Linked DNA regions of Homo sapiens: all the other regions are linked to region 4. Evidence: fine-mapped expression QTL. A gene starts in region 4. Each other region holds a variant in brackets. All regions are shown on one strand. Distances are between the middles of the regions.

Evidence for each region. PIP is the estimated chance that this variant, and not a neighbour inherited with it, causes the effect.
Region 1: its variant is fine-mapped to the expression of ARRDC1 in whole blood (INTERVAL, PIP above 0.99).
Region 2: its variant is fine-mapped to the expression of ARRDC1 in blood mononuclear cells (TOPMed, PIP above 0.99).
Region 3: its variant is fine-mapped to the expression of ARRDC1 in whole blood (TOPMed, PIP above 0.99).
Region 5: its variant is fine-mapped to the expression of ARRDC1 in whole blood (TOPMed, PIP above 0.99).
Region 6: its variant is fine-mapped to the expression of ARRDC1 in whole blood (TOPMed, PIP above 0.99).
Region 7: its variant is fine-mapped to the expression of ARRDC1 in whole blood (TOPMed, PIP above 0.99).

The regions. Positions count from the first base shown.
Region 1 is chr9:137,737,513-137,741,577 of GRCh38, reverse strand. The region is part of intron 4 of EHMT1 (euchromatic histone lysine methyltransferase 1); the gene reads right to left. Among named protein-coding and RNA genes, the nearest start is that of MIR602, 99 kb to the left of the region's middle. RefSeq lists enhancers at 1-435, 3,239-3,498. The variant G/A (reference allele first, on the strand shown) is at 2,441.
Region 2 is chr9:137,638,706-137,642,770 of GRCh38, reverse strand. All of the region lies in intron 1 of EHMT1 (euchromatic histone lysine methyltransferase 1), which reads right to left. It also overlaps the pseudogene SETP5. Among named protein-coding and RNA genes, the nearest start is that of EHMT1, 22 kb to the right of the region's middle. The variant T/C (reference allele first, on the strand shown) is at 1,834.
Region 3 is chr9:137,569,151-137,573,215 of GRCh38, reverse strand. All of the region lies in intron 5 of DPH7 (diphthamide biosynthesis 7), which reads left to right. Among named protein-coding and RNA genes, the nearest start is that of DPH7, 7.7 kb to the left of the region's middle. The variant G/A (reference allele first, on the strand shown) is at 2,519.
Region 4 is chr9:137,603,471-137,607,535 of GRCh38, reverse strand. ARRDC1 (arrestin domain containing 1) reads right to left here and starts at 1,850. Exons shown (of 8, transcript NM_152285.4): 1 at 1,701-1,850. The coding sequence starts at 1,818. It overlaps LOC124902318 (a long non-coding RNA gene), which reads left to right and starts at 2,198. Exons shown (of 3, transcript XR_007061885.1): 1 at 2,198-2,239. RefSeq lists silencers at 1,179-1,448, 1,459-2,588.
Region 5 is chr9:137,560,523-137,564,587 of GRCh38, reverse strand. It overlaps DPH7 (diphthamide biosynthesis 7), which reads left to right. Exons shown (of 9, transcript NM_138778.5): 8 at 1-154. Among named protein-coding and RNA genes, the nearest start is that of MRPL41, 11 kb to the right of the region's middle. The variant G/A (reference allele first, on the strand shown) is at 2,503.
Region 6 is chr9:137,763,656-137,767,720 of GRCh38, reverse strand. All of the region lies in intron 10 of EHMT1 (euchromatic histone lysine methyltransferase 1), which reads right to left. Among named protein-coding and RNA genes, the nearest start is that of MIR602, 73 kb to the left of the region's middle. RefSeq lists an enhancer at 3,346-4,065. The variant A/G (reference allele first, on the strand shown) is at 2,169.
Region 7 is chr9:137,645,430-137,649,494 of GRCh38, reverse strand. All of the region lies in intron 1 of EHMT1 (euchromatic histone lysine methyltransferase 1), which reads right to left. Among named protein-coding and RNA genes, the nearest start is that of EHMT1, 28 kb to the right of the region's middle. RefSeq lists an enhancer at 2,122-2,191. The variant G/A (reference allele first, on the strand shown) is at 1,569.

The DNA.
Region 1 (4,065 bases), 130 kb before region 4:
CAGTAACCCATGGTTATTAATATCATAAATCGGACATGGCACCTGTTTATAAATAAAGCTTTATTGGTGCACACCCATGCCCACTGTCTACATACTGTCTGCATCTGCTTCAATGTGACAACAGCATGACCAGCTGGGACAGGAACAGTGTGGCCCACAAAGGCGCTGACGTTTGCTACCTGTCCCCTGGAAACAGTTTGCTACCTGTCCCCTGGAAACAGTTTGCTGACTCCTGTAATGAATGGCTGAGTGAGGACAAAGGAGATAACCCTGCATTTCATGTGCTTAAGAATCATGTCGGCCGGGCGCAGTGGCTCACACCTATTGTAATCCCAGCACTTTGCGAGGCCGAGGCGGGTGGATCACGAGGTCAGGAGATCGAGACCATCCTGGCTAACACAGTGAAACCCCGTCTCTACTAAAAATATAAAAAATTAGCCGGCCAAGGTGGCGGGCGCCTGTAGTCCCAGCTACTCGGGAGGCTGAGGCAGGAGAATGGCGTGAACCCGGGAGGCGGAGCTTGCAGTGAGCCAGGATCGCACCACTGCACTCCAGCCTGGGCAACACAGCGAGACTCTGTCTCAAACAAACAAAAAAAAAATCATGTCGGGGCCCAGTGCAGTGGCTCACATCTGTAATCCCAGCTACTGAGGAGTCTGAGGCAGGTGAATCACTTGAACCCGGGAGGCAGAGCTTGCAGTGAGCCGAGATCGCACCACTGCACTCCAGCCTGGGAAACAGAGCTAGACTCCATCTCAAAAAATAATAATAAAATAAAATAAAATAAATCATGTCAGGAAGTCTGTCTGCTGCAAACAAGTGAAGAATGGTGTCTAAGGGCCTCTTACTGAGTGACAGGTTGTATGTGTGAAACAGATGTTAGGTATAAAATTTGCTACACATTAAATAGTAGAGAAACATCTATGGATGACTTTCAGAAATGTAGAATCTATTAAGGACCTGAAAGTGTTTGAGCACGTGGCTGAAGTGTGAAGAGGAGCCGCTTCAGTCCTGCAGGGGGACTTCCAGCTGTGTCCAGGGAAGGGGTCTGGCCCTGAGCCAGACGGCTGGGATTCAGCGTCATCAGGGGCCAGGAGAAAGAAAACTGCAGGACGGCTGGCAGTAAGCTTCGAAGAGGCTCGAGGGCCTCTTTGGAAGGAGGATTTGCAGTCCAGGCCTCAAAGAAGCGGGGCCAGTGCCCTGCAGATGGGATCTGGCACAGGAGAATCCTGGTGGAGAACATCAAGAAGGGGGGCGAGGGGGGGGCTTCAGGACCCCGAGCAAAGACTCTCGCCAACTGGCATCTCACAGGACGCTCGGGGAGGCCCAGGCATAGGACAGTGTGGAACAGACAGTTCCAGGAAAAATAGTGCCAGGAGTGGAAATGGGCGTGGGGTGGGGGTGGGCACTGCCCAGCTGCTCTGCAGGAAGGCTGGGCTGCTGGGTAGAAGAGGTGTGGACAAGGAAGAAAGGCGACAGGCTCCAGAGGGCAGACAAGGTGGATGGGAGGTTGGAAGTGAGGGAAAAAAGCAAGTGCACGGGAAACACAGCAGTCTGCGTGGTCACCACCACAACTCTGCCACTCACAAGGGCTTCTGTCCTCAGGTCACATAGAGCAGGGCCCAGCTCTATGTCCAGGCCTCATGCCTGGACAGCAGCACCTGTAGAACTGTTCCCTGCCATCAGAGACACCGTCCTCCTTCCTCCCTGCCCGACAAGTCCACACAGAGACCCCAGGCCATTCAGGATCAGTATTTGGCACTGTTCCCACCCACCTATGCAGAAGGCACGAACACTCCAAGCTCACAAAGCAAAAGGCAGGGCCTCCACTCTGGGCATGTCCTGTGGTCACCAGCAAAAAAGCGCAAGGGAAGCACTGCAACTTCTGCAGCAACCTGCAGCTTCTACCCAAGTGTGGACAATGAACCCAGTAGGGACCTGCAGCTTCTACCCAAGTGTGGACAATGAACCCAGCAGGGACCTGCAGCTTCTACCCAAGTGTGGAAAATGAACCCAGCAGGGACCTGCAGCTTCTACCCAAGTGTGAACATTGAACCCAGCAGGGACCTGCAGCTTCTACTCAAGTGTGGACACTGTACCAAGCAGGGACCTGCAGCTTCTACCCAAGTGTGGACACTGAACCCAGCAGCAACCTACAAGTGTGGACACTCAAACTGCTTTATGACCTAAGTTTACTTTTTCTTTCTTTTTTTTTTTTTTTTGAGACTGAGTCTGGCTCTGTTGCCCAGGCTGGAGTGCATTGGTGCGATCTCCGCTCACTGCAAGCTCCGCCTCCTGGGTTCACGCCATTCTCCTGCCTCAGCCTCCTGAGTACCTGGGCCACCACGCCCGGCTAATTTTTCTATTTTTAGTAGAGACGAGGTTTCACCGTGTTAGCCAGGATGGTCTCGATCTCCTGACCTTGTGATCTGCCTGCTTC[G/A]GCCTCCCAAAGTGCTGGGATTACAGGCATGAGCCACCGCGCCCGGCCTGTTTTTTTTTTTTTTACTAGTAAAATACACACACCACAAAATTTACCATCTTCATCATCTTTAAGTGCACGGTTCCATGGTATTAAATACATTCAGAATGTTGTGCAACTATCACCCCTATCTACCTCCACAACTCTTTCCATCTTGTCAAACTGAAGCTCTGTTCCCATTAAGCCCTAACTCTCCATTCCCTTCCTCCAGCCCCAGACTCCAGCCCCTTCTACTCTTTCTGTGTCCATCAGTTGGACGACTCTAGGGACCTCCTTTAAGTGGAATGGTACAACATTTGTTCTTTTGTGGCTGACTTACTTCATTCGGCACAGTGTCCCCGAGGCTCATCCACGCTGCAGCGCGGGCCCCAGCTTCGCTGCTTCTCAGGCTGAGTCACACGTCACTGCGTTTTGCACACGACACTTTGCTGATCCGTTCGCCCGACAGCCGACCCTCGGGTGGCTTCCCCCTTTTGGCTGCTGTGGTTGATGCTGCTATCAACGTGGGTGTACAAGCATCTCTTCAAGACCCTGCTTTCAGTGCTGCTGGGGCACGTGCCCAGCAGTGGAACTGCTGGATCACATGGTAGTTCCACACTTAGTTTTTTGAGTTTTTCACAGCAGATGCACCGTTTCACTTCCTACCAGCAGTGCACAAGGGTTCCCATTTCTCCGCATCCTCACTGATATGTGCCATTTTCTGTTTTGATAGTTGCTGTCCTCAACAGGTGTACGGTGGTATCTCACTGTGGTTTTGATTTGCATTTACCTTATGATTAGTGACGTTGAGCATCTTTTCATGGGCTTACTGGCCATTTGTGCATCTTCTTTGAATAAACGTCTATTCCAGTCCTTTGCCTTTTTTGGGTTTTTTTTGTTGTTTTTTTTTTGTTGTTGTTTTTTTTGAGACAGAGTCTCACTCTGTCACCCAGGCTGGAGTGCAGTGGTCCGATCTCGGCTCACTGCAACCTCTACCACTCGGGTTCAAGTGATTCTCCTGCCTCAGCCTCCCAAGTACCTGGGACCACAGGCATGCACCACTATGCCCAGCTAACTTTTGTATTTGTAGTAGAGATGGGGTTTCACTATGTTGGCTCGGCTCGTCTGGAACTCCTGACCTCAGGTGATCTGCCTGCCTCGGCCTCCCAAAGTGCTGAGATTACAGGCGCAAGCCACTGCACCCGGCCTCCTTTGCTGATTTTTTAATCAAGTTGTTTTTATTGTTGAGTTGTGGGATTTTTTTTGTATATTTTGGGTAGTAATTCCTCATCAGACATAGGATTTGCAGATATTTTCTCCTACTCCACAGGTGCCTTTTTATTCCGTTAACAGTGTCTTTTCTTTACGACTAGCCAAGTGCAGCAGTAAGAAGCAGGGAAACAGGGAAACAAGGAGATAGAAAGCTTTGTGCATCAAAAGACACCAAGTCTCATCAAACCCAGTGTGTCTCCTTTTTTTTTGTTACCTACACTTTTGGTGTCATGTCCAAGAAATCACTGCCAAATCCAAGGTTGTGGAGCCTTTGTCCTATGTTTTCTTCTCAGAATTTTATATGTTTAGGTCTTACATTTAGGTCCTGGACCTGT
Region 2 (4,065 bases), 35 kb before region 4:
TTTGAAAGACAATTGCGTAAAGCAGCAACTATAAATCTGCGTAGATGGGCACACAGTGTAATGTAATTTGTATGACAATAACAGTACAAGAAGGGCAAAAGAAATTAAGCTATGCCCAAATAAATATTTCATATAGTATTGTAATATAGTATTAATACAAACTACATTATCAAAAATTAATATACTAAATTGTAATCCCCAGGACAACCAAGAAAACAAATAAAAAATACAGTCAAATAAACAGCAAGGGAATTAAAATGGTATACACTAGAAAATATCTAACACAAAAGAAGAAAGCAATGAGTCAGGCGTTGTGGTACGCCTGCAGTCCCAGCTACTCAGGAGGCTGAGGTGGGAGGATCCTGTGAGCCCGGGAGTTCAAGGCCACGGTGCACTATGATCATGCCTATGAATACTCACTGCGCTCCAGCCTGGGCAACATAGTGAAACTCCATCTCCATGAAGAACAAAAACTAACTGAGGCAGAAAGTAACAAAAAAGACAGAAGACGCAGAAAGCAAATACAAAATCGACAAGTATAAACCCTACCTTTCAGTAATTACATTAGATGAAACGCATTACCTGTCCCACATGAAAAGTAGAGACTGGGGGAATAGATTAAAAAATTTGGGGCCGGGCGCAGTGGCTCACACCTGTAATCCCAGCACTTTGGGAGGCCGAGGCGGGTGGATCACCTGAGGTCAGGAGTTCAGGACCAGCTTGGCCAACTTGACGAAACTCCGTCTCTACTAAAAATACAAAAATTAGCCAGGCATGGTGGTGGGTGCCTGTAGTCCCAGCTACTCAGGAGGCTGAGGCAGGAGAACAGCTTGAACCATGGAGTTGGAGGGCATGGGGGCAGAGGTTGCCATGAGCCAAGGTCATGCCACTGTACTCCAGCCTGGGTGACAGAGCGAGACTCCATGTCAAAAAAAAAAAAAATGTGATCTTAGTCCTATGAGCTTCTTCCTGATGAGCAAGGAGGCCCTTGGGTCCAGACTCTCCTCCCGGAATGACCCCCAAACACCCGTCTCTGCCCCTGCCTGAAAGGAAGACATGGCGCCAGCCCCTGACAGAGGCCAGAGGAAGAGAGGAACAGAACAAGCGGCAACCAAGCCCACGAGGAAGCACAGCACAAAACAGGCTTCAGAAACAGGCTTAGCAAGTGAGCGGCAAGCGGACTGGGAGAGCGAACATAGACAAATTCGGCCAACCACGTTCTTCAGGGCAGATGAGAATTGATTCCCAAAATCCCCAATTTCTGGGTAATAACATTTGTCAGCCATCCACAAGCGTCTGCACTGCTTGGGAGGAGGATGAAGAGGCACTGCATTGTTTGACCAGTGCTGAAGTGACAGAATTTGAAGATATTAAATCAGGTTACAGAATAGGTTTTTATTTTGACGAAAATCCTTACTTCAAAAATAAAGCTCTCTCAAAGAATTTCATCTGAATGAGAGTCATGATCCATCTTCAAAGTCCACGGAAATCAAATGGAAATCTGGAAAGGAAACTCTTCAAGTCAAATGCAGAATAAAGCCAGTAGGAAGAGGCATCCTGAGGAACCAGACAGGTTCTTCACCTGGTTTACTGGCCATTCTGACGCAGGTGCAGATGAGTTAGGAGAGGTCAGCAAAGACCATACTTGGCCAAATTCATCACAGTGCTCCTTGGTTCCCAATATGGATGATAAAGAAGGAGAAGACGAAGATGATGAGGAGGAGGAACTGGAAGACACTGATGAGGAACGGGATAAGGAGAAGATAACTAATAGAACACACATGGATTAGAACCTTCCTTTTTTAAAGCTGTCTCCAGTTCCCGGGAGCAAGG[T/C]GCAGTCTTGCTTTTTCCCTCTTGTGCTCACCCAGTTCTTGAGGTCTCTTTTGTCTACACCGTGGATCTCAACTTATCTGGGGGGGAAATACCTTGAGGAGAATAAAATGTGAAAAGAATCTCTACCTCTTTCTGTTTCAAACTCATTTTTATCCCTTCCTATCTCAACAAACTTGTATGGAATCAACATCACCATGTTCTATGGAAAAAAGAACAACTTTCTGCCCCCTTTGCACTGTTGGAAGCTAAAGGGCGCCAGGCCCCTATAATGCAGAGAATTCTAGCATTTTTTCCTTCTCTGCATATTGGGCTCAGAGAAAACATGTATCTACTTGCTCTTGATTAAAAAAAGAAAATTTCAGACCAGGCACAGGGGTGCACACCTGTAATCCTAGCACTTTGGGAGACCAAGATGGGAGGATCACTTGAGGCCAGGAGTTCAAAACCAGCCTGAGCAACATAGGAAGACCCCATCTTTACAAAAAATTTAAAAATTAGCTGGACATAGTGGCAGATGCCAGTGGTCCCAGCTGATCAGGAAGCCAAGGTGGGAGGACTGCTTGAGCCCAGGGTCAAGGCTGCAGTGAGCTATGATCACGCCACTGCACTCCAGCCAGGGTAACAGCAAGACCAGGTCTCTAAAACACACAAAAATAAAACAAAACAAAAATTAAAATTAAAAGCTTTAAAAAATAAGGTTACAGGCCAGGCACGGTGGCTCACACCCGTAATCCCAGCACTTTGGGAGGCCGAGGCAGGCGGATCACCTGAGTTCAGGAGTTCAAGAACAGCCTGGCCAACACAGCGAAACCCCATCTCTACTAAAAATATAAAACTTAGCCGGGCACAGTGGCACATGCCTGTAATCCTAGCTACTCGGGAGGCAGAGGCAGGACAATCACTCGAACCCGGGAGGCAGAGGTTACGGTGAGCCAAGATCGCGCCATTGCACTCCAGCCTGGGCAACAAGAGCGAGACTCCGTCTCTAAATAAATAAGGTTACAGAAGGCCAGCAAAGGGTGGGTCTCAAATGTCTGGTGGGTTGAGTGGGCATTCTGATATCACAGCTCCTCCTCTGGCTGATTAATGGGGAGGTACAACAGACATCCTTGCAGTCTAAGGTGACACTTTAAAAATAAAATCTCTTCTATCAGGTAAGAAAAATACATATATATGATTCAACTGCTGAATCTACAAGATCCGATCTCAGATGGAAAGGACTGTAAGAGACATCCCTTCGATTGAAGATACAAAGAGATTAAAAGGCCAGAAAAAGATATAGTATGCAAAAATAAACCATAAAAAAACTGAAGTGGCTATACTGACATCAGACAAAATAGACTTTAAAACAAAAACATTTATAGAGACAAAGAGGGACATTTCATAATGAGAGAAGTGTCAAAACACCCAGGCAGATGTAACAACTATAAACACACGCAAGATAACATAGTCTCAAAACACGAGGCAAAAACCAACAGAACTGAAAGTGAAAATGTAAAATTCGACAGTACTGTAGATCTCATACTCTACTCTCAATAACTAATAGAACTAGAAAGAAAATGAGAAAGAATAAGGAAGACTTAATACTATCAACCAATTCAATCTGACATATAGGGAACATTCCACCTAATAAATTCATAATGCACATTATTTTCAAGCACTGATGAAACATTCCCCAGGACAGAATATAATACGGGATTTTTTTTTTAATCTAACAAATTAAACACACTGAAACTATACAAAGTATAATTCTGACCATACAGGAATTACATTAGAAATCAACAAAACAAAGAAATCCAGGAAATACCTAAATATTTAGAAATTAAATGACACACTTCTAAAGTCACAAGGGAAAATAGAAAATATTCTGAACTGAATAAAAATGAAAATACAACATATCAACATTTATAGGAAGCAGCCTGTTTTTTCCTAGGACACATGTAACAATAGAAATGTATGGTCTCGAAGTTCTGAAGGCTGGAAGTCCACAATGAAGGTGTCAGTAGGCCTTGTGGTCTGTAATGGCTTTGGAGTGCCATCCCCTGCCTCGGCCAGGCTCTGGGGTCTGCTGGCCGTCCCTGACACTCCTTGGCTTATGGAAGCATCACCCCAGTCATGCGCCACTTCTCCCTGTGTGTCCGCATGCTGTCTTCCTTCTGTGCATGTCTGTGTTCACAAGGCATCCTTTTTTTTTTATGAGGACACGTAAGTCATACTGGATTAGAGGCCTAC
Region 3 (4,065 bases), 34 kb after region 4:
CTAATTTTTTGTATTTTTAGTAGAGACGGGGTTTCACTGTGTTAGCCAGGGTGGTCTTGATCTCCTGACCTCGTGATCCACTCGCCTCGGCCTCCCAAAGTGCTGGGATTACAGGCGTGAGCCACCTTGCCCCGCCCACTTATTCTTTAGAGAGCAAAGTATAGCTTGCCTCAGGCAGTGCAGGGTCTTGGGTGGTGTTGGCCAGGGTGTTGGAGGAGCAGGCACCTGTGGGCAGAGCCATCCTGCCTCCCTGATATGCTCGGTGTCAGATCCTTTATGCTTTTACTGGAAGTCCAGTTTCTGTGCTTTTTGCCTGATACCTGTGGATACAATAGTGACTTCGCCATGTTGGATTTCAAGTTTGTCTGCACCCTTTTTGGATATAGTTTATCTTCCAGAAATAAAGGAAGCATGAGAGAAATAAGATTCCTTTCCAGGTCTTGTGAATGGTTTGCATTTGGGGCATGCTGATGTGGGAGTGAGAAATTAACAACTGGTGTTTCCAGGAAGGAGGTAGCTTTGGCTAGCATCTCTTTCCCAGGTAGAGATAACTCATGGCAGGTGAGAGGGGCGGGTCTCTGAGAAAAGACAGAAGAGGAGCTGCTGAATTTGCAAACAGCCGAAGAAAAGATCTGACCCTTCCCTGCTGCTACCCATCCGGGCCACTGTCTCATCTAGTTTGTTACAGCAGAGCAGCAAGTGATGGCCCTGCCTTCATTCCTGACTGTTCCAGTCTCCACACAGTAGCCAAGCAAGTGTTTTAAAAACACACACACTTTATCGCATCTCACTCATTGTTAGAACCCCTCACAGTTCCTGTTTCATTGAGGATAAAATCCAAAATAGTGATGCGATTACCCAAGGCCTGTGGAATCTGGTCCACGCCTGCTTCTCCGGCCTTGTTTTGGCTCCTATGCTCTCAGTCACCTTTTCCTGAAATAGTCCACATTCCCTCAGTCTCAGGGTTTCGTCACGGGATGTTTCCTTCATGGGTGAATTCTGCTTTTTTGACATGCCCAGCTTAAAATCTTGTCCTTAGAAGACTGACGCAGAGCAGCTGTCCTTCCACCCCAGGCAGGCCTCACCTCCGCCGTGGCTCACGCTGCCTCTGCTTGTCCGAGTGACGAGCACGTGTGTAAGGCGGCGTTCTTATTTGTGTTGCTCATTGTCACAGCCTTGAACCGTCTGAGAGCCATAAAGATCTCATTTCTTGAGGTCTCTCCTTGGGTTGGTTCTTCTACCTTGAGCTAATTCAGAGCAAAGGTACCGTAGGGCAATGATTGAATAATTCTGGACTGATTCATTCTTTCAACAAATGCTATGTGCTGAGCCCTATTCTAGGTGATTAGAATACTTTAGCAAACTAAACAGACAAAAGTCCTGCTTTCTTTTTTAAGTTTTATTATTTTTATTTATTTATTTATTTTGAGATGGAGTTTCGCTCTTATTGCCCAGGCTGGAGGGCAGTGGTACAATCTTGGCTCATTGCAACCTCCACCTCCTGGGTTCAAGTGATTCTCCTGCCTCAGCCTCCTGAGTAATTGGGATTATAGGCACCTGCCGCCATGCCCGGCTAATTTTTGTATTTTTAGTAGAGATGCGGTTTTACCATGTTGCCCAGGCTGGTCTCGAATGCCTAGGCTCAAGCGATCTACCTGCCTCAGCCTCCCAGTGTTGGGATTATAGGCGTCAGCCACTGCACTCAGCCTTCTTAAAAAAATTATTTATATAGGCCAGGCGCGGTGGCTCACACCTGTAATCCCAGCACTTTAGGAGGCCAAGATGGGCGGATCATGAGGTCAGCAGATCAAGACCATCCTGGCCAACATGGTGAAACCCCATCTCTATTAAAATACAAAAAATTAGCCGGGCATGGTGGCAGGCGCCTGTAGTCCCAACTACTCGGGAGGCTGAGACAGTGGAATTGCTTGAACCCGGGAGGCAGAGGTTGCAGTGAGCCGAGATCGCACCACTGCACTCCAGCCTGGCGAGAGAGCAAGGCTCTGTCTCAAAAAAAAAAAATTTATTTATATAAATACATTTTGAGGATGGGGTGGGTGGTTCACGTCTTGCTGTGTCACCCAAGCTGGAGTGCAATGGCGTGACCACAGGTCACGGCAGCCTTAACCTCCCAGGGTCAAGCGATCCTCCTGCCTCAGCCTTCTGAGTAGCTGGGACTACAGGTGTGAGTTACCACACCTGGCTGATTTTCACATAAAAGTCCCTGCTTTCACCCAGCTTACATTCTGTGGCGGGGAGACAGACAGTAAACACAAGGCATAATATGTAATAGGGAAGGAGACTGCATGGCCTGTCAGGGGCAATGAGTGCTTTGGAAAGAAGGTAGAAGGAGGTGAGAGGGGACCAAGGGTGCTGGGAGCAGGTGCAGATTATACTGTTGGAGAGCATGGTCAGGGTGGGCAGTGGTCCTAAGGCAGGAGTGGCCCTGCTATGGCAGAAGAGTAGCCAGTAGCCAGCATGGTTAGGATGACCTGAGGCAGTAGCGGAATAGAAGAGG[G/A]TGAAATCAGAGGTAATGGGCCAGGGCACAGGGCCGTGCAGGCTCCAGGAAGGACTTTGTTTCCTACTCAGAATGAAATGGGAGCTGTTGCAGGATGTTGAGCAGAGGAATGACAGATTCTGACTTGCATTTTAAAATTTGCGATGACCTCTTTGGTGAATGTGAGTCTAGACCACAAGAGGGAGGGACACAGCCTGGAGACTTGACATTGGGCAGGTGATGAGACAGCCCAGAGCAGGTTTGGAGTAGTGGAGGTGAGGACCAGTGGTTGGGTTCTGGATAGAAGTGAAGGTATATCCAGTCAGATTTCCTGATGGAGTGGATATGTGGGGCATGCGAGAGTGGAGAGACTCACGTATAAAGAAGCCTTTGCCTACTCTGTACAAATTTGCCACAGAATGGCAGCTCATACTTGAGGCTCATCTGCAGGCTTCATGCCTAGGTCAGCTGATTCCGCTGGTTCATTTAACTGTAGGTCATGTTCACTGTGTATCCGTAGTGTCTATTATGAGGGTCCATAGTGTGTGTTCAGCAAGTACCTATTTGATGGGTGGTGGGTGGGTGGGTGGATGGTGGGTAGGAGGGCGTGTGGGTGGATGGATGGATGGATGGTGGGTGGATGAGTGAGTGGGTGGGTTTGTGGTGGATGGATGGTGGATTTTTGGATGGTGGGTGGTGGTGGGGTGGATAGATGGTGGGTGACTGGATGGATGGATGGTGGATGACTGGATGGATGGATTTTTGGATGGTGGGTGGTAGAGTTTGGATAGATAGTGGGTGAGTGGATGGATGGTGGGTGGGAGGGCGTGTGGATGGATGGATGGATGGATGGTGGGTGGATGAGTTGGTGGGTGTGTGGTGGATGGATGGTGGATTTTTGGATGGTGGTGGTGGTGGCGTGGATAGATGGTGAGTGACTGGATAGATGGATGGTGGATTGTTGGATGGATGGATGGATGGATGGATGGATGGATGGATCATGGGTGGATGGATGGATTTTTGGATGGTGGGTGGTGGGTGGTGGGTCGTGGGTGGTGGATGGTGGATGGATGGTGGATTGTTGGATGGATGGATGGTGGGTGAGTGGCTGGCTGGCTGGCTTGATAGACGGGGGGTGGATGGATGGATTTTTGGGTGGTGGGTGGTGGGTGGATGGATGGTAGATTGTTGGATGGAAGGTGGGAGGGCGGGTGGGTCGATGGATGGTGGATTGTTGGATGGATGGATGGATGGATGGTGGGTGAGTGACTGGCTGGCTGGATGGATGGATGGTGGGTGGATGGATGGATTTTTGGATGGTGGGTGGTGGGTGGTGGGTGGTGGATGGATGGTGGATTGTTGGATGGATAGTGGGTAGATGGATGGAAGGTGGGTGGGGGGTGGGTGGGGGCATGGGTGGATGGATGGTGGAATTTTGGATAGGGTGAGGTCGGGGGGTGGATAGATGGTGAGATGGATGGAAGGTGGGTGGGTAGTGGGAGCTGGATGATGCAGGGGTGGGTGATGTGGTTAGGCCTAGACGTTTTCCTTCTGATCTTCTTCACTCT
Region 4 (4,065 bases):
GTGGTCCTGCCTGAACCCCAGCCCTGGACTGGGCCAGCCTGAGCTCCAGAAAACTGCTCCCTCCCAGGCCTCCCTCCGCGTCAGCCCTTTAGACAGCCGGTGTCCTCACGGCTGGGTGCTGACTGTCACCGACACTCATCGGCAGAGTAAGTGAGCAAGCTCTGGGGCCCAGGCAGGGCTGCTGTCCTCCTGGGGGCTGAGGGCCTCCCTACTGGCTCCTAGCAGGATTGACAAGCATCCTCTGAATGAGGAAAAGAAACCATGGTCCTTCTGTTCCCATCCCAGGCAGGGCTGGGGGAAACCCCCGGGGGCCCCGGTACACCCTCCCACCTCACTTGCAGCAGCCTGAATCATGTGCTCTCTGGCCCATCAGGGCCCATCTCCTACTCCTTAGCTCACGACCCTCCTTTTTCTCCCTCATTCAGACCAGCCTCTGTGAGGTAGGACCATCAGCCAGTGCTCCCTCGGCTCTTGGGCCAGCTGCCCAAAGTGCTGGGATTACAGGCGTGAGCATTCAACCCACCCACCACGTCCACCCGGAGGCCAGGGGAGCCTGCACACCCAGGCCAGTCACGCACCGCGGGGCCGTCCCTTCCCTGTGGTAAGCAATGGCCTGCTCACCCCAGGCCACGCCAGGGGAAGGACGACAGGGTCCTGCACAGCCCTCAACCAGGATCCAGCCGGCCTCACCACACACCACACCTGTACCCAAGAGATGTGTGTGCTATCTCTGCCCTGCCACGGCCACACCTGCCCCCACCCAGACCCCAAACTCAAGGTTGGGACAGAGGAAGGGAGGCTGTGGGGTCATCCCAGGAGGCCCAGTGGGGCCAGGAGCCTGACAGAAGCACCTACCACCCGGCTTCTTCCGAGGCCCCACAGCCTCAGGCGGTGCAGGGTCAGGGCCACAGCACCATCACCTGTCCCAGGAGGCTGAGAGGACAGAACAGAGACTGTGGGTTCTCAGCAGGCACAAAATCGGTGCTGTTACCCACGCGCGGGCCCAGCGGTCAAGGTCCAGCGGCAAGTCCAGGGGCTGTGGCACAGGCCAAGCAGCCCAGGTGGTTCCCACAGGAGGCCAAGGTAGAGAAGTCCCCGGCAGGGACGCGGCACTCACAGCCAAGGGCCGGGCAGAGGCAGCCTCACCTCGCGGGCCGGCCCTCACCTCCAGGGCGCCCTGCCAGCGGCCACTGCAGCAACCCGATACCCAGTCCCCGAGGCCCAGGCGTCCACCTCGGCGGGGGGCCGGCGAGGCCTGCTGGCGGGTGGCAGGGGGCGCAGGGAGCCGCAGCAGGTGTCTGCACCCCGCCGGGACCGCACGCCCGCGCCAGGAGCGGCTCTGCAGCGGGAGCGCCTGCGCCGGGAGCCAGGGTGCGGGAAGGAGCCCAGCAGGTGCGAGCGCGGACGGGGAGGGTCGCAGGCCTGCGTGCGCCCGCGCTCAGGGCGTCCTCCACAGTGGACCCGCTTCAGGCCCCGCCGGGACCCCGCCGCCCCTCGGCGAGAGGGCAGGAAGGGCAGACGCGGAAGGGCGGCGCCGCCCGGACCTCCCCGGCGCCGCCGAGCCCGCTTCCCAGCAGTCCCGGGCGGCGAAGACAGCGACTCCGCGGGCCCAACCCGGGGCCAGGCGACGGCAGCCGCTTCCGGGAGCCCTGGCCCCGCGCAGGTGCGGCCAAAGGCCCTCCCCGAGGACCCGCGCCCACCTCGGAACGGCAGCGGTGCCCCCAGGCGCACGCGCACGGTCCCAGCCAACGGCTCCCCGGGGCTGTAGACGACGCGGCCGTGGCTCAGGCTGATCTCGAAGAGCTGCACTCGCCCCATGCCGCGGCCTCACCGGCCAGCCGCGCAGCGACGCCCCCGCCCGCCGCCCGCGAGTCCCGGCTCCGAGGCCCGGCCCCGCCCCCTCCTATGCCCCGCCCCCATCCGTCCCAATCCCGGCCTCCACCCCCATCCGGCCCCTCCCAGGCCCTGCCCCGCCCCACGGCCCCGCCCAGCCCCCCGGCCGCCCCGTAGCCCGCGGACTGCCGCTCGGAGGCCCGGCCCAGCCCCTATTCCCCGCCCCATCCGTCCGTGTGGCCCCGCCCCCTCGTTATTCCCCGCCCCTCTGACAGCCTCCTCGCCCCGCCCCCGCCCTTCGCCCCTGCCTCGCCTTCCCAGCTCCGCCCCTGCCTCGGCCGCCCCACCCCTGCCCCGCCCCCCGGCCGCGCTCATCCATCCCCGGCCCTGGCCCTGTCCCGGCTGGGTAGGTGCTGCGCTGCGTCGGGCGCCGCTTAAGGGACTTGAGGCGCAAGCGTCCCGTGCGTCCCCCACGGAGGGAGTCACCGCCGCGTCTCCGTCGGGGGGCAGGGCTGGGGGCGGGGCCGAGGCGAGCTCTGAGACTGGGAAGGTCTCCCCGCTGCACTCTGCTGCGGGCAGAACCCACTCCTCCGCCCCCACCCTCCGCCCGTCCCGCCCAGGGGTCTCCCTCACCCCGAGTCGCGGAAAAACGTCACGGGGCCGCGCGGGCGTCCTGGGCGGGGATGCTCCGCCGCGTAGGACCTGCCCCGCCTCAACCCCCACCCCCGGCTCCTGCCCCGCACCCCCAACCTTCTCCGCACCTACCTCGCGTCCCAGCACCTGTCGCGCCCCTCCGGAACCTGCCCGCCCTCCCGCCTTCCCGGTACCTGCCTACCCCCGCAACTGTCCCGGCCCCCAACACCTGCATCGCCCAACCCCTTCCCCCCCCGCCCCCTGCCTTCCCCGCACCTGCCCGGAGTCCCAGCACCTGCCCCGCCCCCCGCTATCCCCCTCCTTGCTGGCCTGATGGGGTGTGGGCCCAAGGGAGCCACACTTGGGCGGAGGCCCTTGGGCAGGGGTCCGCAGCAGAAGGGTCGGGGGCCAGGTGGGGCGAGGACTTGGATCACTTGAAACCAGGAGGAACACACTCCCATTTATCTTTTTTAAAGGGTCCCTTTGTAGAGAGTGAGCCGCGGGGGGTGGGACTCAAATACCCAGGGGACCTAAGGCGGGAGAGACCGGTTGGGTAGTCCTGGAGAGGGAAGGCGTCGCTCGACAAGGACCAGCTCACCACGGAGTGGGTGTGCGGGCCCCAGTGCTGCGAGTTTTTCTAGGACAGCCGGTGAAGAGGGTGGCCTTCTCTGATGGGGAGGACGGACCTAGATACACATGGTTTGGGGGTGGGAGGGTCATCACATGCAGAGTCTGAGGTGCCACTGATCCCCAATGGACCAAGTACTTCCGTGCATGAGCCTGGGAGTCAAGCACTAAAATGTTGCCATCCCTAGTTGGTAGAAGGTAACAGGTCAGGGAGGAGGAGTCTGGCACCCCAGCAAAGAGAAAGGGGCTCACAGGCTGGAGGGGCCCCCGGGCCAGGCTGGGAGAGGCCCTGAAGCCCCAGGCCCAGCTCACTCCCTTAGGATTCCGATGTTTCCGGAGGTGGGTCTAACTGGCCATGCTCCAGACACTTTCCTGCCAAGGCTATGCACAGGCAGAATTCCCGAACAAGAGAGAAGGGTGCCATGGGATGGCAAGGATTGTGGACAGCCCTCCCGAATGGCAGTCGGCCATGCCAGAAGTCAGAAAGAAGGTGTTTCACCGGGCGCGGTGGCTCGCACCTCTAATCCCAGCACTTTGGGAGGCCGAGGTGGACGGATCACGAGGTCAGGAGATCGAGTCCATCCTGGCTAACATGGTGAAACCCCGTCTCTACTAAAAATACAAAAAGAAAAAAAAAAATTAGCCGGGCGTGGTGACAGGCGCCGTGGTCCCAGCTACTTGGGAGGCTGAGGCAGGAGAATGGCGTGAATCCAGGAGGCGGAGCTTGCAGTGAGCCAAGATCACGCCACTGCACTCCAGCCTGGGCAACAGAGTGAGACTCCATTTCAAAAAAAAAAAACAGAAAAAGAAAAAAAAGAAAGTGTTTCAAGCAAGGGACAGACAGACTGTATTGCAAGCTACTGAGATGGAAGACAATGGACACAGAACACAGGTGGCCTTTATCCCAGGTCAGCCACAATCTAAGCCCCACAGGACTCTGCACATCCTTGATTCTGACCCTATCTCCCACCC
Region 5 (4,065 bases), 43 kb after region 4:
CTGTGGGACACACGAAACATGAAGCAGCCGTTGGCAGATACGCCTGTGCAGGGTGGGGTATGGAGAATCAAGTGGCACCCTTTCCACCACCACCTGCTCCTGGCCGCCTGCATGCACAGTGGCTTTAAGATCCTCAACTGCCAAAAGGCAATGGGTGAGTGGGGACCCGTGGCTGCTGGGCCTCAGGGCAGGGCACCAGTTCCCTGCCCCCTCGCTCTGCTGGGCTCTTCCCTCAGCTCCCTGCTCCCTTGCTCTGCTGGGCTCTTCCCTCAGCTTTTACACACTCCCAGCGTCGCGCCCTAGACTTGGTCGTGATCCATAACTGTCCCAGCTCCAGAATCTCTGCTCTCTAACCACAGTTTTCCCTGGTTTCCCAGCTCCGTCATTCCGGTGCCTCCTGCATTTCGGCAGACCTCTGACCCCACTGGGACCTCTAGTCTGGAGGCTTGGCCACCCATCACTCCCATAACCATCCTTGTCTGTGCTCTCCCATGCTCTTCCTGCCTGTGGTCAGCTGGGACTCTGTGGTCTGCTGCCCCCTGTGAGCTCACACTCCATTCCCTTCATCCCTTTCTCACACTCTGGGCAGAACCCAGTGTTGTTTTGTTGGGAACAAGCACCTCTGATTCTGGTTGAGCCGGAGAACGTGGCTGGAATCAGCTGTCCACGTTGTGTTCTAGTAGGTCCCTGGGATTCCTGGTGATCTGTAACATTTCTCTAGGCAGTAATCCCCCACTGTCAGAACTGGTTCACATTTTCTTCTCTCTGCTCAAACCTCCAGGACCTCCTCTTCCCTCCTGACTTGCAGCTCATGATCTCTCCTCTTTCGCCTCTTCTCTCTCCCCTCACTCCAAAAATAAGCAATCACAAAACCACCTCATCTTCCCACCATTAAGCCCACCAGCCTCTCGGGCCACCCACATGCTCTCTGCCCTCTGCAGCGGTGGGTGACCCACACCTGTTCCCAAGGCCAGTTTCTTCTCTGCACTGGATTGTACTCAAGGACTTGATTGACTCGATTTCCGCATGGTATTCCTCTTTTTTTTTTTTTTTTTTGAGACGGAGTCTTGCTCTGTCACCCAGGCTGGAGTGCAGTGGTGCGATCTCGGCTCACCACAGCCTTCGCCTCCTGGGTTCTAGCGATTCTCCTGCCTCAGCCTCCCAAGTAGCTGGGATTACAGGCACCCACCACCATGCCTGGCTGATTTTTATAGTTTTAGAAGAGATGGGGGGTTCACCATGTTGGTCAGGCTGGTCTGGAACTCCTGACCTCGTGATCCGCCTGCCTTGGCCTCCCGAAGTGTTAGGATTACAGGCGTGAGCCACCGTGCCTGGCCTGTATTCCTCTGTGTTTTGCATCTTTAGTTTCTCCATCTCTTCTGTATTGTTTCTGTTAGTTCTGTGAATGTGCTTTGTATTTCTCATCGTTTTTTGTTTTGTTTTGAGATGGTGTCTTGCTCTGTCACCCAGGCTGGAGTGTGGTGGTGCAATTGTAGCTCACTGCAGCCTCAACCTCCTGGGGCTCAAACCATCCTCCCATCTCAGCCTCCTGAGTAGCTGGGACCCCCATGCCAAGCCATAATATTTCTTGTATTAAAACAATTTGAGATCTTTTTTTTTTGAGATGGAGTCTTGCTCTGTCACCCAGAATGGTGTACAGTGGTGTGATCTCGTCTCACTGCAACCTCTGCTTCCTGGCTTCAAGCAATTCTCCTGCCTCAGCCTCCAGAGTAGCTGGGATCACAGGCTTGTGCCACCACGCCTGGCTAATTTTTGTATTTTTAGTAGAGACGGGGTTTCACCACGTTGGCCAGGCTGGTCTTGAACTCCTGACCTCAGGTGATCCGCCCACCTTGGCCTCCCAAAGTACAGGCATGAGCCACCGTGCCCAGCCCCTGGGCTCAAACCATCCTTCCACCTCAGCCTCCCGAGTAGCTGGGACCACCATGCCCAGCCATAATATTTCTCATCTTAAAACAATTTGAGGTCTTTTTTCTTTATTAATGGTGATACATTTTCCTCTGAGCACTGCTTTTGCTGCAACCCATACATTTTGGTATGTTGTATTTTTATTTTCATTCATCTCAAGGTACTTTCTAATTTCCCATGTGGTTTTTTTCTTCGACCATTGGTTATTTATGAGTGTGTTGTTTAATGTACATGTTTTTAAGTGCCCACATTTCTTTCTGTTACCGATTTCTAATGTTATTCCATTGTGCATTCCTGTTGAATTTACTGAGATTAGTTTTGTGGCCTAGAGTGTGGTCTCTGCTGGGGAGTGCCCCTGTGCACTTGCGGACGTGTGTTCTGCTGCTGTTGGCTGGAGTGCCCTGTAGGTGCCTGTGAGGTCTCGGCTTTATAATGTTCAGATCTTCTGGTTCCTTACTGAATCTCCTGTCTGGGCAATATTGAAAGTGGTCTGTTGGCTGGGCACGGTGGCTCACGCCTGTAATCCCAGTACTTTGGGAGGCTGAGGTGGGCAGATCACAAGGTCAGGAGATC[G/A]AGACCATCCTGGCTAACATGGTGAAACCCCGTCTCTACTAAAAATACAAAAAATTAGCCAGGCGCTGTGGTGGGTGCCTGCAGTCCCAGCTACTTGGGAGGCTGAGGCAGGAGAATGGCGTGAACCCAGGAGGCGGAGCTTGCAGTGAGCCGAGATCGCGCCACTGCACTCCAGCCTGGGAGACACAGCGAGACTCCATCTCAAAAAAATAAAAGAAAGTGGGCTATTGCTACCTCCAACTCTAACTGTAGAATTATGTATTTCCAGCCTCGTTTCCATCAGTTTTTACTTCACGTATTTTGGGGATCTCTTTTATATATGTTTATAATTCTGGTATCTTCCAGATGTGCTGACCCTTTTATCAATATAAAGTGTCTGTCTTTAAATCTAGTAACATTTTTTGTTTTAAAGTCAGTTTTGTCTGGCATTGGTAAAGTCACTTCAGTGTGGCGTGATGCATCGTTTTCATTCTCTTTCAGTTCACACCTGAGTCTGAGGCGAGTCTTTGGTATGGGGTCATGCTTTTTTTTTTTTTTTTTTTTGAGATGGAGTCTCGCTCTGTCACCCAGGCTGGAATGCAGTGGCGCTATCTTGGCTCACTGCAACCTCCACCTTCCGGGTTCACGCCGCCATTCTCCTGCCTCAGCCTCCCGAGTAGCTGGGAATACAGGCACCTGCCACCACGCCTGGCTAATTTTTGTATTTTTATTGGAGACGAGGTTTCACCATGTTGGCCGGGGTCGTGCATTTTTGCCAGGAAACCTGTGAAAGTGGCGCTGTGCCCTCCTTAGTTCCTCACATCAAGGGCCTATGATGCCACATTGTTCCATTTTTGTGAAATTTGGTCACTTTGTTAAGGTGGTGTTTGCCCCAATCCCTTCACTGAAGAGATACTATTTTCCTCTTTGGGATTAATCAGTAATCTGTGGTGAGAATCTTTGAACCTGTGTCAATAACTCCCTTTTCAGACTTTTACCCAATTCAGAGACAATTGGTGCTTGAATAAATTATGGTAATGGCAAAATGGTGATTTTCTTTTTTTCTTTTTTTTTTTTTTTTTTTTGAGATGGGGTCTTGCTCTGTTGCCCTGGCTGGAGTGCAGTGGCACGATCTCGGCCCACTGCAACCTCCACCTCCCGGGTTCAAGCGATTCTCCTGCCTCAGCCTCCTGAGTAGCTGGGACTACAGGTGCCCACCACCACGCCCGGCAAATTTTTTTTTTTTTTTTTGAGACAGAGTCTCACTGTGTCACCCAGGCTGGAGTGCAGTGGTGGGATCTTGGCTCACTGCAAGCTCCGCCTCCCGGGTTCACGCCATTCTCCTGCCTCAGCCTCCTGAGCAGCTGGGACTACAGGCGCCCACCACCACACCTGGCTAATTTTTTTTGTATTTTTAGTAGAGACGGGGTTTCACCGTGTTAGCCAGGATGGTCTTGATCTCCTGACCTCGTGATCCGCCCGCCTCGGCCTCCCAAAGTGCTGGGATTACAGGCGTGAGCCACCCTGCCTGGCCAATTTTTTGTATTTTTATTAGAGACAGGGTTTCGCCGTGTTAGCCAGGAT
Region 6 (4,065 bases), 160 kb before region 4:
CTGTCTCAGCCTCCCAAGTAGCTCGGATTACAAGCTCCCGCCACCACGCCCATCTAATTTTTGTATTTTTGGTAGAGACTGGATTTCCCCATGTTGGCCGGGCTGGTTTTGAACTCCTGACCTCAAGCAATCCACCCACCTCAGCCTCCCAAAGTGCTGGGATTATAGGCGTGAGCCACCTCACCCTGCTCTCAGATTTTTGAATTTGGGATGCACAACTGGTAAGTATAATGCAAATATTCCAAAATCCAAAATGAAATCCAAAACACTTCTGGTCCCAAGCATTTTGAGTAAGTGATACTCAACCTGTATTGTAACCTTATCAGACCACCTTCATAGATACGGTACATCAACCTGTATTACAACCTTCACAGCTACAGTCCATCGTTGGCTGAACGCTGTTACGCAGCACGTGACTATGTTAGATAAAAGGGCAAAACCACCAGGCATGGTGGCAGCTCCAATCCCAGCTACTCAAGAGGCTGAGGCAGGAGGGTTGCTTGAGTGCAGGAGTTTGAATCTGCACCGAGCTCTGCCTGCACCGCTGCACTCCAGCCTGGGCAGCAGAGTGGCACATTATCTCTAAAAAATAAAAGTAGGCTGGGCACGGTGGCTCACACTTACAATCCCAGCATTGTGGGAGGCCAAGGCAGGTGGATAGCTTGAGCCCAGAAGTTCGAGACCAGCCTGGGGAACATAGTGAGATACCATCTCTACAAAATAAAAATATTAAAACTTAGCTGGGCGTGGTGTTGCATGCCTGTAGTCCCAGCCACTCGGGAGGCTCAGCTGGGAGAATCACCTGAGCCCCAAAGGTGGAGGCTGCAATGAGAGCCACTGCATTCCAGCCTGGGGGTCCAAGTGAGAACCTGTCTCGAAAAATAAAATAAAGCAAAATTTTTCTTTATTAAAAGAGCAAATCCAACTACATGCTGTCTACAAGAAAGCCACTTTAAATTTAAAGACAGAGACAGACTAAAAGCAAAAGTGTAGAAAATGACGTACGGTGCAAACATTAATCAAAAGAAAGCTGAGTAGCTATGTTAATATCAGACAACACAGCCTTTAAAACAAAACAGGTAGTTTTTGTTTTTGTTTTTGTTTTTGTGACGGAGTCTCACTCTGTCGCCCAGGCTGAAGAACAGCAGCACGACTGATGCTCACTGCAACCGTCGCCTCCCAGGCTCAAGCAATTCTCCTGCCTCAGCCTCCCAAGTAGCTGGGACTACAGGCAGGCGCCACCACAAGTGGCTACTTTTTGTATTTTCAGTAGAGATGGTGTTTCCCCATGTTGGCCACGATGGTCTCAAACTCCTGAGCTCAAGTGACCTGCCTGCTTCGGCCTCCCCAAGTGCTGGGATTACAGGCATAAGCCACTGTGCCTGGCCTGAGATATGTCTCTCTATAAAACCATTCCAGTGAACAATGAATAATAAATGATAAAATCAGCACCATTTTGAAACCTCCAATGAATAAACAACAAATGTAGGTGTTAAGCATCAGCAGCTGCCAATATCAGAGAAAGTGAGACAGCCAGACAACATGGCCCTTCATTTTGGGCTAAACCCTCCCCACACTCAAGAGTACTACAAAGGGGCCAAACTTGTAAGGCTGTTTAAGTTTTTTTAAGAGATGGGGTTTCATCATGTTGCCCAGGCTGGTCTTGAACTCCTGGGCTCAAGCAATCCTTCTGCCTCGACCTCCCATTTTACAGACATGAGCTACTGCACCCGGCCTTGGCAGGTTTTGCAAGAAACACAGAGGAACCTGCTGAGTTGCCACCTAAGTGTGGGATTCACAGAATCCAGACTATGGGAGCCTCGAAGCTTCCAACAGCCTGGGTTGTTCAACAGACACATTGAAAGAAAAAGAAGGGACCGAGAACAATATAGAAATTGAAGGACAGATGGGCAGCAGTGCCACAGGGGAAGCTACAAACCTAAACAGTGAAACTGACCCTGGAAGTGGGCGTTGTGGGAGTCGGGACAGAGGCTGCTGGGCGGGGCTGCCGGGAAGAACACAAGCGGGGACAGGCTGGGGCGGCGGGGGCGGGGGGAGTGGGGCAGTGAGGGGAGTGGGGCTGGGGGGTCAGGCTCCGCTTCTCCACCTTGGCGGTGTTTACCAGAGCTCAGCTGAAGTTGGTTTGTTCAGCCCAATGTTTGTTTTGT[A/G]TGGTCTTCGGGATCTACGTTTCATTTAATTTAATTTATTATTATTTTGAGTTTTCTATCCAAAAAATAAGTGAGAGCCCAAGGGATCTGTGTTTAATTTTAAACAAAAAAAGCTTACCACACATTGAATACAGAGAAGACCATGAGTTCTTAAGAATGCTAAGGGAGAAAGGGAGGTGGAGAGGGGACAGAGAGAAGCAAAATCAAGCCCTCCGGATACCACTAGAGGTTGTTAGAGCACCCATTCATTACTCTGCAAAGACAAGTAGCTATTTATTCTGCCAATCCCGGCTGAAGCTTGTTTCAGAGGTACGAAACAGCCCTAGCAGATGTGGGGAAGTTCTTCTGTACCAAAGAATTCCAGCCTGTACTTGCAGGAGGAATGACAGAATGGCAAAATCACCATTTTGAAACTTTGAATGAAACAATGGATGCAGGCAGTGGTCACCAAGGACAATACCGCCTTCGGGCGGACAGGCGGCCGCCGCAGAAACCCAGAGCCTTCTCAGCACCGCTCCCAGCGCACGAACCTCCACAGCATTCTCGCCAGAATTAAATCATAAAATAAAAATCTTAGGTACTTGAATGTAAACCAAGTCTTTGAATCTAACTTTCAGGCTATAGGAACTAAGGCAAATGACTTAAACAACACAAGAAAGTTATGAGCTAAGTCCAGAATCTGGAATCCAGATTCTTTTAGCCAACAGCGTGGCAAATGGGAAGAAGCAGGGGACAGAGAGAATGTTCTGGGTGAAAGAAACACAAAAGACTTAAGAGACATTGCAGCAGATTGATTTAATGAGTGGAACCAGTTTGGATCCAATTAGAAAGAGAGAAAAAAAGTAAAAGGCATTTTGTCAACAGACCTTTGACCATGGACTAGGCACTAAATAATAACAGGAAATTGTTATTTTTGTTACATGTGAAAAGCATTGCTGTTATGTGAGACAATGGTCCATTTTTGATCTTAATAGAAACACACTGTGCTATTCAGTAGTAAAATGGGGTTTGTTTTAAAACAGTAAGTAGTTCAAAACCAAGAAAGAAGGGTGGGAGAGAACGCTGGTGACAGAGGAGCCGAGTCGAGGGTTCCAAAGGCTAACTGCGCCCTCACTTGTCACTATGGAAAGTTCTTTTGAAACAAGTGAGAGGCTCTGCAGAGGGGCCGAGTGTGGCAGAACATGCAGCGAGTGACATGAACACTCAGAGGTGGGAAAAGCCGTCACATAGGGAGCCCGCTGGGCACACGTGCCACAGATGAGAGGCGCTGACGCAGACGTCGCCTAGCTGGGATGAGACAAAAGCAACGCCAGTGTCGGAGTCTGAGTAAAGGCATGTGCACCGGAAACGTGGAGATACAGAGAGAAAAGTCACAGGGAAGCACGTGTCACACGGGGATCTGACTCCACTGGATCCTGTTTAACACCTACGGAGAAGGAGAAGAGGAGGCGAACCAGTGGTTCTCAAAGTGTGGTCCCTGGACCAGAAGCATCAGGAGAAACGGGGAACACTTTAGAAAAGCAAAATCCCAGCCAGGCCAGACCTGCTGAATCAGAAACCCCGGCCACGCCAACAGGCACCAGGGTGAGGGCCATGGGCGAAACTGACTGGCCTGTTCCAGGGCTCTGCCCGCTCCTCCCGGGTGTTGCCCATGCTCCCCGACACAGCGGTCGGGCCTGACCTTTGGAACAAGGCTCCCATTCCTGCCTTCCTCACAGCAGGCCAGTGAGTCTGGAGGCGCCACCTGGCCCCTCTCACGGGCCTCACCTGTATCACCTGGGCGACGGCCGATGCTGCACAGGCTGCCGTGGACCTGGAGGAGCGCCCTACGCAAAAGGCTTGGAATAATGCCCAGCATTGCTACACGGATGGTTGTCCTGTTCACAGCTCACTTACT
Region 7 (4,065 bases), 42 kb before region 4:
CATTTTTGTTTGTTTGTTTGTTTGTTTGTTTGTTTGAGTCGGAGTCTCGCTCTGTTGCCCAGGCTGGAGTGCAATGGCGCGATCTCAGCTCACTGCCACCTCCGCCTCCCAGGTTCAAGCAATTCTCCTGCCTCGGCCTCCGCAGTATCTGGGATTACAGGCACCCGTCACCACATCCGACTAATTTTTATATTTTTAGTAAAGACAGGGTTTCCCCATGTTGACCAGGCTGGTCTCTTTGGCCAGGCTGGTCTCAAACTCCTGACCTCATGATCCACCCGCCTTGGCCTCACAAAGTGCTGGGATTACAGGCATGAGCCACTGCACCCAGCCGGGAGAACACTATTTCTGAAGTCACGGGTGGATCTGAATTTGGGAGAACACTATTTCTGAAGTCACAGGGGAATGTGAATTTGGGAAGACACTACTCAACCCACTGATGCCCAGTTTCCCCAGTGATGAAGCTCAAGCACGATACGACAACCAGGATCAGTCTCTGGCTTTTTGGGTGGCAAATGGATAAGATGGTACAGCTCATAAGCAGAAAAACTAGGAAGACCAGCTAAAGGGTGACTACTATAATCCAAGCAGGGCACTGTGGTGGCTTGGGCCCAACAGTGATGCCATGATAGGGAGAGAAGTCAGGGAAACGGGATGCACCCTGAGGATGAGGCTGATGGGATCTTCTGATGAACCAGCTGAATTTGAGAGGGGAAGGCAGGACTAAGAATGATTCCTTGTTGGCATTTTTACAGACATAAAGGATAAGTTTTTGCATTAACTTGGGAGAACTAACATGTTTATGATGTCCAAGAACAACAAATGTATTTCCAGAGTTCAAGTCTTCTGTTCCAAGTGCTCGAATGCCCTGGCTAGAGTGCAGTGTTGTGATCACAGTTCACTGCAACCTCAACCTCTTGATGACACTCCCGCCTCAGCCTCCCAAGTAGCTGGGACCACAGGCATGAGGCACCATGCCCAACTATTTTTTTTTTTTTTTTTTGGAGAGAAGGAGTCTCTCTATGTTGCCCAGGCTGGTCTGAAACTTCTGGGCCCAAGCAGTCCTCCCACCTCAGCCTCCCAAAGTACTGGGATTACAGGCGTGAACCACCACAACCCAGCTGGCTACTGACTTAATGTATCAATTTTATATCCAGTTCCTTTACTGAATTTCACTGTCTGTGTTTTAACATTGACTCTTTTGGGTTTTCCAGGTATAGTTCATTTCATCTAGGTGTTCAGATTTAATTGCTGAAGATTATACAATATGGTCTCTTACGATTTTGCTGTCCCAAACAGAATATTGCTTGAAGGGCTCTCACTGGCCATATTGGAATAATTTGAGTTTCAAAAGGACAAATGGTGAAAATAGATTTTAACACATTTAATAAGTACAAATTCATTACCTCAGGAGCCATTCTATAGTAATGCCAAAAAAATATGAAAGGGGAAAGAAAGCTCTTCCTTGAGAAAAGTGTCAACAAACAAATGGGGAAGGAAGGGCAGAGTGGTTTCCCAGCATACAGTCAATGCAAAGAGTACGAATGCTCTGAAGAAAAAGAAAGCAG[G/A]AGAGAGCGAGAGCAAGTGTCCACAGATGCGGCCGGGCGCGGTGGCTCACGTCTGTAATCCCAACACCTTGGGAGGCCGAGGCGGGTGGATTGCCTGAGCTCAGGAGTTCGAGACCAGCCTGGGCAACACGGTGAAACCCCGTCTCTACTAAAAATACAAAAAAATTAGCTGGGCATGGTGGCGCACGCGTGTAATGCCAGCTACTCGGAAGGCTGAGACAGGAGAATCACTGGAACCTGGGAGGCGGAGGTTTCAGTAAGCCAAGATTGCACCACTGCACTCCAGCCTGGGTGACAAAGCAAGACTCCATCTCAAAAAAAAAAAAAAAAAAGGCAAGAGCAGAGCCCAGAAGGCACAGGAAGTCTGCGTGCAGAGCAGCAACGCCTGGCAAAGACTGCTGCCCCTGAGCAGAGAGCACAGGGGCCACCAAAAAGCAGGGAGAAGAAGCTGGGACCCCATTACAGCCATGGAGTGCAGAAGCTGTGTCATAAAGGTAGAGCCGACAGCGTCTCCTGGGAAATGCCATTCTACAGATGGTGTCTAGCGCTGCGGGGCGAGAGGCAGACCAAGAGAGCTGCGTTTCATGCTGGGCAGAAGGTGCCTATCAGTTTTCCATGCAGTCAACATGGAGTCAACCTGGAGCCACAGCAAAGAGGTCAGCCTGGGGCACGAGCCTGGGGTCAACAGAGGACTGGATAGCTCAGGGAATAAGGACACACACAACACGAGGACCAGCCTGGGACTTCGGGCACGTCAATATTTAGAAGTCAGGCTTAAGAGGCGGGTCCTCCAAACAGGACTGGGAAGAAGGAGGCGGCAGGAAACCAGAAGAGTGCAGTGTTCTAGAAGCCAAACGGAGACAACTAATCCCAGGTTTTTTTTGCTTGAATTATGATAACAAATGCTGGTGAAAGAACCAGTAAGACGAAGGCTGAGAACTAACCAATGACAATGTCTAGGTCAATGGTGACCATAACCAAAAGGGCATCTGAGGAGTAGTGGAGACCAAAGCCTGCTGCAGCGGGCTCAGCCACGTGGGGACTGGAAACAGCACAGGCAGAAGGAAACCTGAGGGACTGGAATTTAAGGTACAGAAAGGTAAGGAAGAAGCTGAACATGAATAGCCGTGTTTTCAAAGACAGTAGGAGATAATGTTAAAGCTGAAAATCAGTTAAGACATCCAACGTTACAAGATTTGCGGCAGTGAGGGGATCAAACCCAGCCTCCAATTCGGCCAGAGCTCATGACAACACACGTGCCTTGCGAGATGTGAAAACAACAGAACTGCGCCACACCTCCCCCAGGCCACCCCAGCCCACATGCACGTGGGCCTCCCCCAGACCACCCCAGACCACCCCAGCCCACACGCTCGGGGGCCTCCCCCAGGCTCCAGGGTTGGGCAGCCAAGGCTGCTTTCCACCTGCTGACTAGCTCCTCTCTCCCACAAAACGGGAGCACTCCTCGGGGCTCCCATTCAGCCCTCTTACTTTCCAGCCCATTGTCCAGAGAATGAGTCCCTCGTCCTCTCCCCGTGGTCACAGGATTCTTGCCCGCAGCACAAACTTGAAATGTTCCTCAGGCCAGGTACCACTGTCCCACAGAAAGACAGGAAATGCCACAGACATCATTTTAAATTTCTAGCATCTACATTTAAAAAGTAAAAATAGGCCAGGCACAGTGGCTCACACCTATAATCCCAACACTTTGGGAGGCCGAGGCAGGCGGATCACCTGAGGCCAGGAGATCAAGACCAGCCTGGCCAACATGGAGAAATCCCATCCCTATTTAAAATACAAAAAGTTAGCTGGGTGTGGTGGTGGGCACCTGTCATCCCAGCTACGCGGGAGGCTGAGGCAGGAGAACTGCTTGAATCCGGGAGACAGAGGCTGCAGTGAGCTGAGATCACACCATTGCACTCCAGCCTGGGCAACAGAGCAAGACTCTGTCTCAAAAAAAAAAGTAAAAATAGAAGTAACTAATTTTAATAAATTGCCTTTAACTCAGTATAGATCCAAAACATTATCAACATGTAACCAATATAAAATAATTAGTACCAAAAGAGTGTGAACTATCGTACTAAGCCTCTGAAATCTAGTGTGCATTTCACATAGCACATCTCAGTTCGATATGGCCATGTTTCAAGGGTCTGAGGCCCACGTGGGGCTGCAGCCACGTTTCTGGAGATCACAGCCACCTCTCCACTCAGCGCTGCAAGTACAAAAGCCAACCCTTCTCTAAGATTCCATTTGGAATCGAGTGAAAAAGACACTTGTGTATCAGTCTGCAGCAGAGATGGAAACACAGACAGCCTTCCTTTAACCACCTACAGGAGGCCCCTCTTCGCTGCTTCTATCACACCCTGTTTATCTCTTTTAATAGCAATTACCAAAGTGTGTAATTGTTTGTCTTTCTCAAAACTAGGACACAAGGGCTTCTGTAAGTACAAGGCAGACGCCATGTGCATTCTCATGTGGCTCCCAGTGCAGAAGCTGGCAC